Regions from separate parts of the Homo sapiens genome. Here regions 2, 3 and 4 are each reported to be linked to region 1. The links are microRNA targets in miRTarBase. Many come from high-throughput screens and were not tested one by one. Region 1 holds a microRNA gene; each other region holds the end of a gene's coding sequence. Distances are from middle to middle.

Evidence for each region. The annotated mature microRNA hsa-miR-6797-5p reads AGGAGGGAAGGGGCUGAGAACAGGA and lies in region 1 at 1,207-1,231, shown strand. An mRNA with a match to its seed (bases 2 to 7 or 8) in the 3' UTR can be bound and repressed. Matches are read on the target gene's strand: a 7mer-m8 pairs with bases 2 to 8, a 7mer-A1 pairs with bases 2 to 7 and ends in A, and an 8mer does both.
Region 2: the mRNA of MORC4 is a reported target of hsa-miR-6797-5p. Seed matches in the 3' UTR shown: 7mer-m8 at 2,370-2,376.
Region 3: miRTarBase lists IP6K1 as a target of hsa-miR-6797-5p. Seed matches in the 3' UTR shown: 7mer-A1 at 2,286-2,292 and 7mer-m8 at 1,959-1,965.
Region 4: the mRNA of UBE2S is a reported target of hsa-miR-6797-5p. Seed matches in the 3' UTR shown: 8mer at 2,717-2,724.

What each region holds. Positions count from the first base shown.
Region 1 is chr19:41,868,426-41,871,910 of GRCh38, forward strand. MIR6797 (microRNA 6797) reads left to right here and starts at 1,202; the gene lies at 1,202-1,273. It overlaps RPS19 (ribosomal protein S19), which reads left to right. Exons shown (of 6, transcript NM_001022.4): 4 at 606-789; 5 at 1,274-1,328; 6 at 2,926-3,485. The coding sequence ends at 2,952. RefSeq lists enhancers at 1,050-1,608, 3,051-3,120, 3,361-3,485.
Region 2 is chrX:106,939,049-106,942,048 of GRCh38, forward strand. It overlaps MORC4 (MORC family CW-type zinc finger 4), which reads right to left. Exons shown (of 17, transcript NM_024657.5): 16 at 2,890-3,000; 17 at 1,690-2,584. The coding sequence ends at 2,431. Among named protein-coding and RNA genes, the nearest start is that of CLDN2, 20 kb to the left of the region's middle.
Region 3 is chr3:49,724,444-49,727,443 of GRCh38, forward strand. IP6K1 (inositol hexakisphosphate kinase 1) reads right to left here. Exons shown (of 6, transcript NM_153273.4): 6 at 1-3,000. The coding sequence ends at 2,679. Among named protein-coding and RNA genes, the nearest start is that of GMPPB, 2.0 kb to the left of the region's middle. RefSeq lists a silencer at 1.
Region 4 is chr19:55,398,665-55,401,664 of GRCh38, forward strand. UBE2S (ubiquitin conjugating enzyme E2 S) reads right to left here. Exons shown (of 4, transcript NM_014501.3): 4 at 1,081-3,000. The coding sequence ends at 2,772. It also overlaps a transcript of RPL28 not described here. Among named protein-coding and RNA genes, the nearest start is that of SNORD157, 2.5 kb to the right of the region's middle.

The DNA.
Region 1 (3,485 bases):
GCAGATGTGTGCTCCAGTTAATAGAAGCGTGCAAGCGTTTCTGGGGAGGCTGGTGTGTCGACTGGATTTTACGGAGCTTTTTTTGCAGGCAAGGAGGCTGGCTGGGGTGGACCAGGGACTTGCCCAAGCCAGCCTTCCCTGTGTCTGCAGAGGGGCTGGTACACATTCCAAGCAGGGGGCACCCACTGCACAGAGTGTCTGCCCTGCCCTTGTTATCCTGAGCTCTCCAGACTGAGGTGGCCCGGAGAGTGGCAATAGGTCCCTTCACTCCTGCTTCTCTGGGGCCCATGGAGATGGTCACAGCTAGGCTCCACCCCTACATAACCTCAGGTTCAATTCAACAGCAGTGCTGCTGGGATAGTAACCACTAAAGAAGTTGGCCCTGGAGATGGTGGGAGTGCCCACCCAGGGTGCAGGGCTGTTTGTCAAGGAAGAGCTAGCCGGGGGGGTGGGTGAGGAGAGGGGGCTGTCAGTTTCTGGGTGTTAGTGTGTGTTTTCAGTTTCCCTTCTTATAAAACAGTGAGAATTAGCTGTTTACACACAAGGAATTGTTTACCTGAGACCTTGATCAAGACCCTTAAATCTCCCTCTCACACTACCCCCAGCTTCCACAGCGCGGCACCTGTACCTCCGGGGTGGCGCTGGGGTTGGCTCCATGACCAAGATCTATGGGGGACGTCAGAGAAACGGCGTCATGCCCAGCCACTTCAGCCGAGGCTCCAAGAGTGTGGCCCGCCGGGTCCTCCAAGCCCTGGAGGGGCTGAAAATGGTGGAAAAGGACCAAGATGGGTAAGCAGGGTAGAGGGGGCTGCATTGATGGAGTAGCCTTGAGGCCCGGTCATCAATTCCCCAACGAATGGTCCTGCATAGTCTGCCCAGCCCCTCAGGCCCCTCCTATCAGAGGCAGGCAGGAGGGGATTCTGCAGAAAAGCAAACAGCACGGGGCCTCACCCCGACCTCTCTGGCTGACTAGCCCAGGCTCCAGGAGGGTAATTTAGCGACTATCTGCTTTCATTAGCCTGCTCGTTAACTTTTCCCAATTGATTTTTCGGGGCTTTTGATCTAAATGCTTGCACAAACAACACCCCGTCAGCTCCCAGGGGGGCTCCCACTACTGCCCCCAGCTCGTTAGAATGCACCTGACTAGGGCCCTCAGTGGGACTTGGCTGGCGGCAGGTGGCTTTTTGAGAAGCCTGGCTCACAGCCAGGAGGGAAGGGGCTGAGAACAGGACCTGTGCTCACTGGGGCCTGCATGACCCTTCCCTCCCCACAGCGGCCGCAAACTGACACCTCAGGGACAAAGAGATCTGGACAGAATCGCCGGACAGGTAAGGCCTGCGTTTGGGGTGGGGCTGGGTCCCTTAGTCGCTGCCCAAGCATTTCCAAAGCCCATACTTTGTCAGGTAGACTTATTTCCTTCTCTGGAGGGCACAGCCCAGGGTGCTGGTGGGGTCAGAGGAGGGCTGCCCAGAGACAGGAGAAAGGACAGTCCTGTCTGACTTTTCCTGTTGGTGCTGCTTAGAAATTTGGAGGCAGGCTGGCTGTGGTGTCTCACCCCTGTAATCCCAGCACTTTGGGATGCCGAGGCAGGCGAATTATCTGAGGTCAGGAGTTCAAGACCATTCTGACCAACATGGAGAAACCCTGTCTCTACTAAAAATACAAAATTAGCCGGGTGTGGTGGCACATTCCTGTAATCTCAGCTACTGGGGAGGCTGAGGCACAAAAATCACTTGAACCCGGGAGGTGGAGGCTGCGGTGAGCCAAGATCATGCCATTGCACCCCAGCCTGGGCAACAAGAGTGAAACTCCATCTCAAAAAAAAAAAAATTGGAGGGAACTCCAGCCCAGGTGCCACTGGGCATCTATCCACAGAGCACATAGCTGTACCCGTAGATGACTCCCCCTCCCCAGGTCAGCCTGCGATGTTTCCCCTTAGTCCTCATGCGTACTGAGCATCACATGGGCTGCTTGGGAGAGGTGGAGATAAGGGAGGGGGGCTGGTTCAGAACCCAGGTCTCCATTCAGATCCTGGCTGGCCAACACCCTGGGGCAGAGTGGCCACACCCCTGGTGCCACAGTCTCCTGTCTTGGCCTCCCTGTGGCCAAAATCTACCCTTGGCCACCTCAAGCATGGTAGTGAGGAGTCAGTGAGCTATAGTACAGCAGGAGCACCCAGGGCCTGGCATGAGCTCAATTCTGTATCACTGACTCAGGCCTCCTAGGAGCCTTGGAGCATTTAGTCAGTCAAGTGTCACAAAAGAATGGAAAGTGTCAGCCCTCTAGGAGTTGGGGGTGGTCTGGAAGGAGAAAGCTCTTCCAGGCAGAGTGGGGCTTGGCGCACACATCATTGCTGGTGGTTGGATGTTGGCCTTCTCACATGGCAGTGGGCGGAATTTGGACTCCACTCCGCCACTCCCTTCCTTTTTTTTTTTTTTTTTTTTTTTTTTTTTTTGAGACAGAGTCTTGCTCTGTCGCCCAGGCTGGAGTGCAGTGGTGCAATGTCAGCTCACTGCAACCTCTGCCACCTGGGTTCAAGCAATTCTCCTATCTCAGCTTCCCGAGTAGCTGGGACTACAGGCACACACCACCACACCTGGCTAGTTTTTATATTTTTAGTAGAGACAGGGTTTCACCATATTGGTCAGGCTGGTCTCGAACTCTTGACCTCAGGTGATCCACCTGCCTCGGCCTTCCAGAGTGCTGGGATTAAAGGTGTGAGCCACTGTGCCTGGCCACTCCCTTGAGACTCAGTTTCCACGTCTGTGAAATGGGGGAATACCCACAGTGAGAATTAGATGAGATAGATGCATTTGAAACCACAAATCGGGGTGCCCACCTGTGGTGGGTAGTTAGGTAGCTGTTACAAAGTGCCCCAGCAGAGACCCCCTTGACTAACTTTTATTCTTCCATCTTTTCCCACAGGTGGCAGCTGCCAACAAGAAGCATTAGAACAAACCATGCTGGGTTAATAAATTGCCTCATTCGTAATCCTGGTCTGGGTCTCTTTTTTGAGTCTCTTGCTCTGTCGCCCAGGCTGGAGTGCAGTGGCGCCATCTCAGCTCACTGCAATCTCCGCCTTCTGGGTTCAAATGATTCTCCTGCCTCAGCCTCCCAAAGTGCTGGGATTACAAGTGTGAGCCACTGTGCCTGGTCTGGTTTGGGTCTCTTGATTGTTCTTCAGGGGCATGAGGAAGAGGCGCTTCCTCCCTTCCCTTGGGTGAGGGGGCCCAGGGTGATTGGGTGGCTGTTTACCCGGCAGCCAGTCGGGCCTTCCCAGGTCAAACAGTTCCCATCTGGGTTTGGAGGAAGGACCCAGGGGCCCTTGTGGCTCACTCCCCCACATCCTGTCTTTGCAATTGTCAGAAAGTGAGAAACGAAAGGATGGCTGTGAGCTGTGACCTCAGCTGGGCCTGGGCTGCAGAGGTGGCTTCCGCTGGAGTAAAGCAAGAGGGCCCAGGGTTCATGCTCTTCCCTGGAAGGTA
Region 2 (3,000 bases), not on the chromosome of region 1:
AACACTAGCAAGTCTTTAAGCAGAGGCATGACCTGACGAAGTTGTTAAAAAACAAAATTTGGTGACACTGAGTAGGGCGGATCGAGGAGGGAGAACAGGAGGCAAGGGAGGCCATCTAAGAATTTATTTAGATAATCAAGGCATGAGGTAACAAGTTATTTAGGTAATAACCTAAATGCTTATCATGGCAATAGGAAGTTAAAGGGCAAATGTGGGAGACATTTCAAAGGGGAATTATGATTATGTTAACCTAACAGGAGAGCCAGGAGGAGGCACCTGCTTTTTTCTTCTCAATGTCTTTTGCCTCCACACTAGATCGTAACCTCTGGTAAGGCTGGGAGATATTTTTCAATCTTTCCACAGTGGGATTTAACACTATCAAGGAGATCTCATGCTGGTATGGCTTCTTAGTAAATAGGAAACAAAGAGGTGGCTCTGGTATTGAAGTGAATGGACTCACACAGACAGTGGTGCTGGAAAAAGCAGTGTGGGGTCAGGTCCACAAACCAGGGAATGGGCTGAGAGTAAGCACTAGGAAAGATGAGTTCAAATTTCCTACCTTCTTCCCTTTAAAGCCTCATTGCCTGCCCTCCTTCCTACTCAGTCCCCTCATTCACCCAACAAACACTCACACAGGCAGAACCTTCAATGCTCTGAATTTTTCCTTCCAGCAGACTCCCATCCATCTGTGTGAAATCTCACCCACTCACAGCCCCCATCTGATGAATAAGTCTCACTGAGAGAATGTCGGAATGTGCTACTCTTCCCTCGGTACTATTTACATTTAGACAACTGCGGCCTTGACTATCATAATCCAAATGTCTAACATGAAAATTAATCATATGGCAAGCTAGAGCTGGGGTGAGGTGGAAGGTAAGGGGGCAGGGGGTATCTTTAAGTACTCATTCTAATGATGAAGCCTGGATTTGGCCTCCCCTCATTCCCTGCAGTCTCACTTGGGCTATGTACTATGAGCCCCCTTTCGAAGGAGTTAAAATTAATTTGGAAAAGTGTTCTGAAGTAACTCTGTGGAGGAGAAACAGAATGAATATCCAAGACATTTCCTCTGGACTAGCTAATCCTTTTGCCACTGCTTGATCTCACCTTCCTTTGATTGTTTCTCCTCTACTTCCTACTTTTTACTGTTGGTATATTTTTATGTGTTCATTATTCAATGTCTTTTGAAAAGTACCCTGAACTCTTTGGAGAGTATGTGCTATGTAAACACAATAAAGAAATGAATACAATGTCTCCTTTTACAAGAGAATAAGTTTTACTATTTCTGATAGTACGAAGTTTACCCCTCACTCAGCACTAGCCTGAAGAGTAAGTAGGTATATTCTGAGGGACATCAGATTCCACTCTAAAGTACTTCCCTAACTACCTGAAATCCCATTAATTTGATGACAAATATATTTTTTAATTTGAGCCTTATAGGTTTTTCAAGAATCCCTTATTAAAATGCGAATACCAAAGCAGGCGAACAGATCATGATATAACCTTAGTCCCCTTTATATTAACCCACCACTTCTATCGAACACATTTTTCACATTCCAAATTTTTCCATGCCTTTGTTTATGCTTTTCTTCTTCCAGAGGTAATGCTAAATTTAATATAAATTAGAAATATAACATTACCTTATATTTTCACATAATCTCTCATTTGATATTCAAATCCAAGCCTACTTGATCTTTTTAAAAACAATTTATTTTTTTCCAATGTAAGAATAACAAGTTTAATATTGAAAATCTGAAAAAGGCAGGAAGATAGGAAGAAGAAAAATATCAACCATAGTCCTACCACCTAAAGAACACTCACTGACAGTGTGGCCATGCTCATTCTTTAAGCCTTAATTTAGGTCCCATTTCTGGTGTGGTGCCTTCCTTGAACTTCCTCCCCCAGATCTTCCATGTCATATCTGTACCACTCAGTTGTACATATCATACACTTTTGTGTATAATGTGATGTATGTCTTATGTTTCCAACGAGATTGTTACATCTTCGAAGGCTGCAAACATGAGTTGTACTTGTTAGCTTACCCCAAAATAATACCTGGTATACCGGACCCAATATCTGCTGATTGATCTAACCTAAATGAATACAAACCATTTCAGAAAAAGATATACAATAGACCACATATCCAGGTCATGAAAATTAAAGCTTTCAGGTCACCTAGCTTAGTGACTATTGCTTTTCTGACCCTAGACTCTTGAAAGCCTATTTAAACTGGCCTCTTTCTCCACACCAAAACTGATAAAAAGGAGACTGATTATGAGCCAGGATTTACACAGAGATTCTCTATATAAGGCATAAAGGTGAGGGTGAGAGAGAGAGAGAGAGAGAGAGAGAGAGAGAGAGAGAGACGTGAGGGAGGGAGAGAAAAGAGAACAGACAGAAGATAAGAGAAGAGAAGGGTATACAGTCTGGTGCTCAATCCAGTATGTGATTTGCCTCCAGCACCGTGTACAGGATCCCATCCACTTGTTCTGAGTCATACCCGATCTCACGAAGCTCCAAGTGAGGGAGGACAGAAGTAAGGAGATAGCTGACGTGGATACGTAGCCGCGTAAGCTTTGCCAAAGCCCTGTATGAAGGAGTGAGGGGGCAGGAGAAGAGATGACATGAAGTCATTAACCAACAGAATAAAATGAAGCCCCTTCAAAATGGAACCACATTTCTCAACAGTTATGTTTTCATTAGCTAGAAAGAAGAAAGCACAACGCCACCAAGCACAGGGAGACTGGCTGCAGCTTTCTAAGAAGTAATTACTCAATTCTTGGTGGCCTGTGAATTAAGGCTTCCTCCTTTGTCTACGGCCAGTAAGTGGGGGTCCTAAGGGATGCTTCCCATTAGCACTCACAAGCTGATAACTAAACCCTAGTAATTAACCTTTCTAGGTCATCTCCCTCTGGGGTCCGGTAGGAGACCTGAGCCTTCTGCAGCATTTCCAGGTGTGTCTCTGTTTCCTTCAGTTTCTCTTTTAACTCTTGCTTTTCCTCT
Region 3 (3,000 bases), not on the chromosome of region 1:
CCGGCGCAGGCCTCGGGCGGTGGAGACAGGCTTAGCTTCCAGGAAAGAGCAGCAGAGAGCGATTCCCAGAACGCGAGGGCTTACAGTTCCCCGAGAAGCAAAAGAACCAGGTCCTTCCCAGGGTTCTCCATTATTTTTTCCTCATTAAAATATATTTTAAGTCAGCACAAACATAACCAAATTGTACAGCTTTAAAGTTCAAAGCAGTCTGCATCTAGGGAACGTGCATGTGGTCAGGAGTGAGCGCGTGAGCAGCGGCTACGTAACTAGCACAGGTGCCAGGCCCCTTGATGGGAATCCCCATGCTCACTGCACAGGCCCAGAGAGGGAGGGGTGGGGTCCCTGGCAAGTTGCTACACTGGTCCCCTTCCTCTTTTAAGCACCACCCGTCCCACCCCACCCTCAGGGGCTGGTGTCAGCTTGGCCCAGGGAAGCACTATAGAGAGGGCTCACCTGAGCACCCCAACCCATGATCCCATGTTGCACTTTGTTCCCAAGTTGGGGCTAAGAAGGCTGGGCCTGGCAGGGACAGGGCTCTCTGGCATGGGGCAGGGAGAAAGCAGTGGCAGACAGTATGCACACACACTTGCCCACTACCATTAAATAACAGGGCTGGGTCTCCAGGTGTCCAAAGTGCTGAAAAGAGGGGCCCTGCTCTAAGGGAGCAGCAGCAAATCCCAGGCCTTCCCACTCTTTGTAGTGCCAGGAAAATACTGAATGTAAGTGGGTGCAGCTTTGCTCGCTGTGAGGAGCAGCAGAATGCGGCAGCCTCTCCTCCCAGAATCGAGGAATCTGGGAGGCACAGGACATCCCCAAAAGGTCCCAAACAGTTCCAGACCCTATGTCTTACCCTCCACCCTACCAGGGAATGACTATCTACACTAATGAAGGGCTACTGCCCCCATGGCTGAAGCCACAGAATGGTACAGGAGAGAAGACTGTAATTTGTGACCAGAAACAGGCAAGCTGTCCCTCCCAGCCCCAAAGAATGGGAACCTGCCCACCAGTGGCACCAGGGCTGGGGGCTAGGAGAGATGGCATCCATCAAGGAGCCCTTAAGAGGCTGCATCTTTAAGGACCAGGAAATGAGTCCATCAGTTACCAAGGCTTCTCACAGCTGGCAGGCTTACCTTTAAAGCCAAACAGGCACTTGCCTAAAGTGACAATGAACAGTGTGGCCCTAGGCTCAAAGGAGAGGGTGCTAACCTTGGCAATGGCTGAAATCGGTGTCACCTCCTGGCCATCTGTTAGAAGCAGCAGATCTGTGCCATTAAGGGCTGGCAGCCAAAATGACTAAAACCATGAGAAAGGAAGGGTCACTCCTCAAGCCCTCACTGCCCCACTCTAAGGGTTGAGGGCCATATTCTAGGCCCACAGAAATGGTGCTGGGTCAACAGGGAAACACCAATTTATTCTGCTATCAGGTCTTTATAAAAAGGCAACACCTGTGGAGGAAGGGCATGGGGCAAAAGCTCACCTCAGAAGTGGAAGTGTTCTGCTGAGGAAAGCATGAAGGAATGAGTATATACTAATGAACAAGGCTACACCCCAGGGGAAGGATCCCAAGGGACGGGCTGGCAGCCGGACACATGGACAAACTGATGGACCCAGGACTGATCAGACAAAGCTCTCATTAGCAGAATGTGGGCACCTGCACCCAGGGCCCATACCACGTCCCTGTGAGCAAAAAAGCTTAAAGTTCTCCCTCCAGGCCCAGGGCCAAGAGCGCCTCACAAAGGGCTGCTGCCTTGAACTTGGCCTGGGGAAATGAGACCCTGAGCGGACCACAGCCCTTGAGCCCTGGGAGGAGCAGCCCATCCAGCAGCAGCACAGCTGCCGAAACTTGAGGAAGAAGACTCCCACCCATAGCACAAGAACTGCAAATACTGTCTGGGCCAGAGCCACCAGAGGCCCTGAGGCCTGCTAGGACACCGACTATCCCCCACTTCAGTGGGGTGGGAGGGAGTGGCCTTCTTAGGCAAGGGAACTTGGTGAGAGAGGCTGTTTCAGGAATAGGACAGGTGCCAACCTGTCACGTGCCAACAGGTGCCTGGGGAACCCAGGCGCCGCCCTCTGCCATAAGTTGGCCTCAGCCCAGCTTCATTAATCTAGCCCCATGCTAAGGTCAGACCGAAGGATGGGTCCAGCTTTGTGCAGTCAGCCCTGTGGTGCCCTGAGGGCACCTATTAAAGAGCTAGCTGACACCCACAGCATAAGACTGGAAAGCCCCCAAGAAATGGGCACCCAGAGCCCTCTACTTCTGGGGAACAAGGGAAGAGTGGGCGTGGAGGGGCCCTGCACCAGCCCAGGGCTTTACCTTACAATCAGCAGGGCCCTGCAGCCACAGATCTCAAAGATCTAGACAAGAGAAACCAATGTCCAAGGGCACCCTGTCCCTGCTGCCAAGCCCACCAGGGGCACCTCTTCCTTCCTAAGGCAGCCTGGACACACCAGTCAGAGCCACAAAGCTGAGGAGCCTGGCTGAGAGGGCGTGTGGTCTGCCCTCCTTCACTTTATATATATGGATTCCAGGCTACAGCTAAAAACATTTCTTTTAGTTTACACCAAAGAGAAATATAACCCTTTAAAAGCAAGTCTGTGTGTCCTCACGGCAAGTTCAGAACAATGGTCCCTGCCTGCAGTGGAGAGGAAGGGGTTCTGGGGGCCCAGAACAGGGCCTACTGGTTCTCGTCCCGCATCTGTTCCATGATGCTGATGAGGTTCTCCAGGCCAAACACGTAGCCTCTGTCTGGCCCATCATGCACGGTGGGGTCATCCCGGAAGCCCTTGAATGTGCTGTGTGCAAAGTCAATCATGCGGACATCCACCTTGGGCTGAGAGGAGGGACCCGCCTCGGGGCTGGTGTTGCTGGGGCTGGTGCTGGGGCCACAGGATGACGCCACCTCAGGGAGCACCATGTCCAGGTGCTTGAGACGCATCTCAGACCGGCGGTCCAGGCAGGACTCAGCCCGGCACTCCTTGCCATCATAGATGACAAGC
Region 4 (3,000 bases), 14 Mb from region 1:
GTAGGAACTCTTTATACATTTTGTTGCGTGTGTTGAGGGGAGTGGCGGGGGTGTTGAGACAGAGTCTCACTCTGTTGCCCAGACTGGAGTGCGGTGGTGCAATCTCGGCTCACTGCAGTCTCTGCCTCCTGGGTTGAAGCAATTCTCCTGCCTCAGCCTCCTGAATAGCTGAGGCTATGGGCATGCACCACAATGCCTGGCTGATTTTTATATTTTTAGTTGAGATGAGGTTTCGCCACGTTGGGCAGGCTGCTCTTGAACTCCCAACGTGAAGTGGTCCACCAGCCTTGGCCTCCCAAAATGCTGGGATTACAGGTGAACCACCGTGCCCGGTTTGTTTTGAGGAAGGGTCTCCCTCTCTCACCCAGGCTGGAGTGCAGTGGTACGATCATAGCTCACTGCAGCGTCAACCTGCCCATCTCAAGTGACCCTCACACTTCCGCCTCCGAAGAGCTGAGATTACAGGCGCACACTACCATGCCTGGCTAATTTTTTTCTTTTCTTTTCTTTTCTTTTCTTTGAGACAGAGTCTCGCTCTGTCACCCAGGCTGGAGTGCAGTGGCAGGATCTCAGCTCACTGAAACCTCTGTGTCCCAGGTTCAAGAGATTCTCCTGCCTCAGCCTTCCAAGTAGCTGGGATTACAGACATGCACCACCACGTCCAGCTAATTTTTGTATTTTTAGTAGAGACAGGGTTTCACCATGTTGGCCAGGCTGGTCTTGAACTCCTGACCTCAGGTGACCTGCCCGCCTTGGCCTCCCAAAGTGCTAGGATTACAGGCGTGAGCCACCCCACCCAACCTTGTTTAGTGTTTTAACGGAGGTTTCATTACATGGGCATATTAGACAAATCATTGACCATTGGTCATTGACCTCAACCTTCAGCCCCTCTCTTCCCAGAGGTTGGTAGGTATGGGTGGGGCTGAAATTCCCAACTGTCTAATTCGGTCTTGGTATTTCTAGTGACCAACCCCCTTCCTGAAGCTACGCAGGGGCCCATCACAGATGGCTTCATTAGGACAAAGACTGCTCCTATTAATACCCAGGAGATTCCAAGGGATTGAGGAACTCTGTCAGGGCTAAGGGCAAATATTATTTTTATTATGCACTTCGCTAAATTATTTCAGTGGGTTCCGAGGCCCAGGATGCAGGCACCTTCCTTCAGCAAGGACTGTTTGCTTCCCTCATGCAGAAATGGTTGACGATAAACGCAGAGCTTAAGATTTCTTGGATGGCCAGTGATGTGAATTTGATCTGAAAATCTGAAGGGTTTCTTCCCTTGTCTTTCCTTCGCTCCCTGCACTGCTAGAGGTAGAGAGGAGTGCAGACTTTTGGTTCCTTTTCTCCCTTAGCTTGGGAGATTGTCACTGGAGGCAAGGGCTCAAGGAAGGGTCAGACCCCTTTCAGAGGCTGAGCCGTTTCAACCTCAGCTGTTTTATTAGAATAGGCAAATTCTTTCAGGACAAAAGCAGCCTTTGAGTTTTCCACTCTCCTATGGGTCAGAACTTGTAGATTTTTATTGTAAATGTATTTTACTTTTTGTAGAGATGGGATCTCACTGTGTTGCCCACGTTCGTCTTTAACTCCTGGCCTCAAGTGATCCTTTCACCTCCTAAAGTTGGGATTACAGGCGTGAGCCATTGCGCCTGGCCTATTTTTAATTTTTTTAAAATTAATGAGACATTGGTCTAAATAACCTAAACGCATTAATAGAATGGGAAGTTTCCCCACCCCCTGGTGTGCACACCCAGGTTAATCCCTTCCCCTTGAGGGCAGAAACTAAGACTAAGCTGGGATCTTACCCCTGTGATTTAGTCATTATCACTTAAGTATCTGGATGGGCCTGACCTAATCCGGTGAGCACCTCAAAGGGAATGGGCCCTTAAATCAGACCTGCCAGGGCCCAAGGAGGGGCAGCTTCTTGGAGCTAAGACCCTAGTTCTACGAGGACTGAAATCAGCCAACAACCATGAGCATGGAAGAGGACCCAGACTAAGGAACACCAACAACCAATACCTCAATTTTAGCCTGCAAAGCACTGAGCAGAGACTAGCTCAGCCGTGTCCAGACTTCCAACACAAAGTCTGAAGTGGGTGTTGTTTTAAGCCGCTGGCTTTGTGATCTGTTGTGCAGAAATACATGTGGGAACAGGCTTTGCTGCCCACAAGGGAAAAACCAATCTTTAGCACAAAGCAGGATCAGATGATTCAAGGGGACCGAACCTTGGCCCAGTCCAGAACCAGACAGACGAGGCGAGCCTCATGCCAGACTGCTGGCACCTGGCCGTCCTGAGCAGGAACACCACTGCCACACCAACGTGGCCATTATTCTAGAGGGAGAAGTATAGGGCAGTGCCGCTCAGGCCACCAGGAGCAGCTCCAGGTCCTCGCCCCATTTTAGATTGGAAATCTGACTCCAAAGAGGGGTTGTGACCGCTCTACCTCCACAGAACAAAGAGGTGGACCCAAACCTCAAACAGCAAGGCTGGTGAGCTAGATGGACCCACTGCTGCAGTCCATGAGGCTTTACAAGGACCCAGGGCCTGTGCAGGGGAGCCAAACTCCCAGAGCCACATGGCACCATGCAGCGGTCCTGGGGCATCTGTGAGACACAGAAGCTGCTTTTCCAACTTTATTTAGAAAAACAAATCCAGGTCCCAGTGCCCCCTGTACCCTCCCCGACCCCAGCCATAATTTAAATAACTTAGAGACAGAGTTGGAGGGAGGGGACAGGAGAGGTTGGGGTCACGGTGGAAGGAGGAAGAGAGCCCACTACAGCCGCCGCAGCGCCCGCTTCTTGTCCGTCTTTTTCTTGGCCGCCAGCTTCTTATCGCGCTCGCCAGCATGCTTCTTGGCCATGGGACCCTCAGCCCCTCCCGGGCCCCCTGGGGCCCCAGGGTCGGTGGAGGAAGCTTCAGTGCCACTGGCCAGGGCCCGACCGGCTTCGGCCCTGCCGCTGGGCCCGCCGGCGCCCCCGTGGATCTCTGTGAGCAGACGGGCC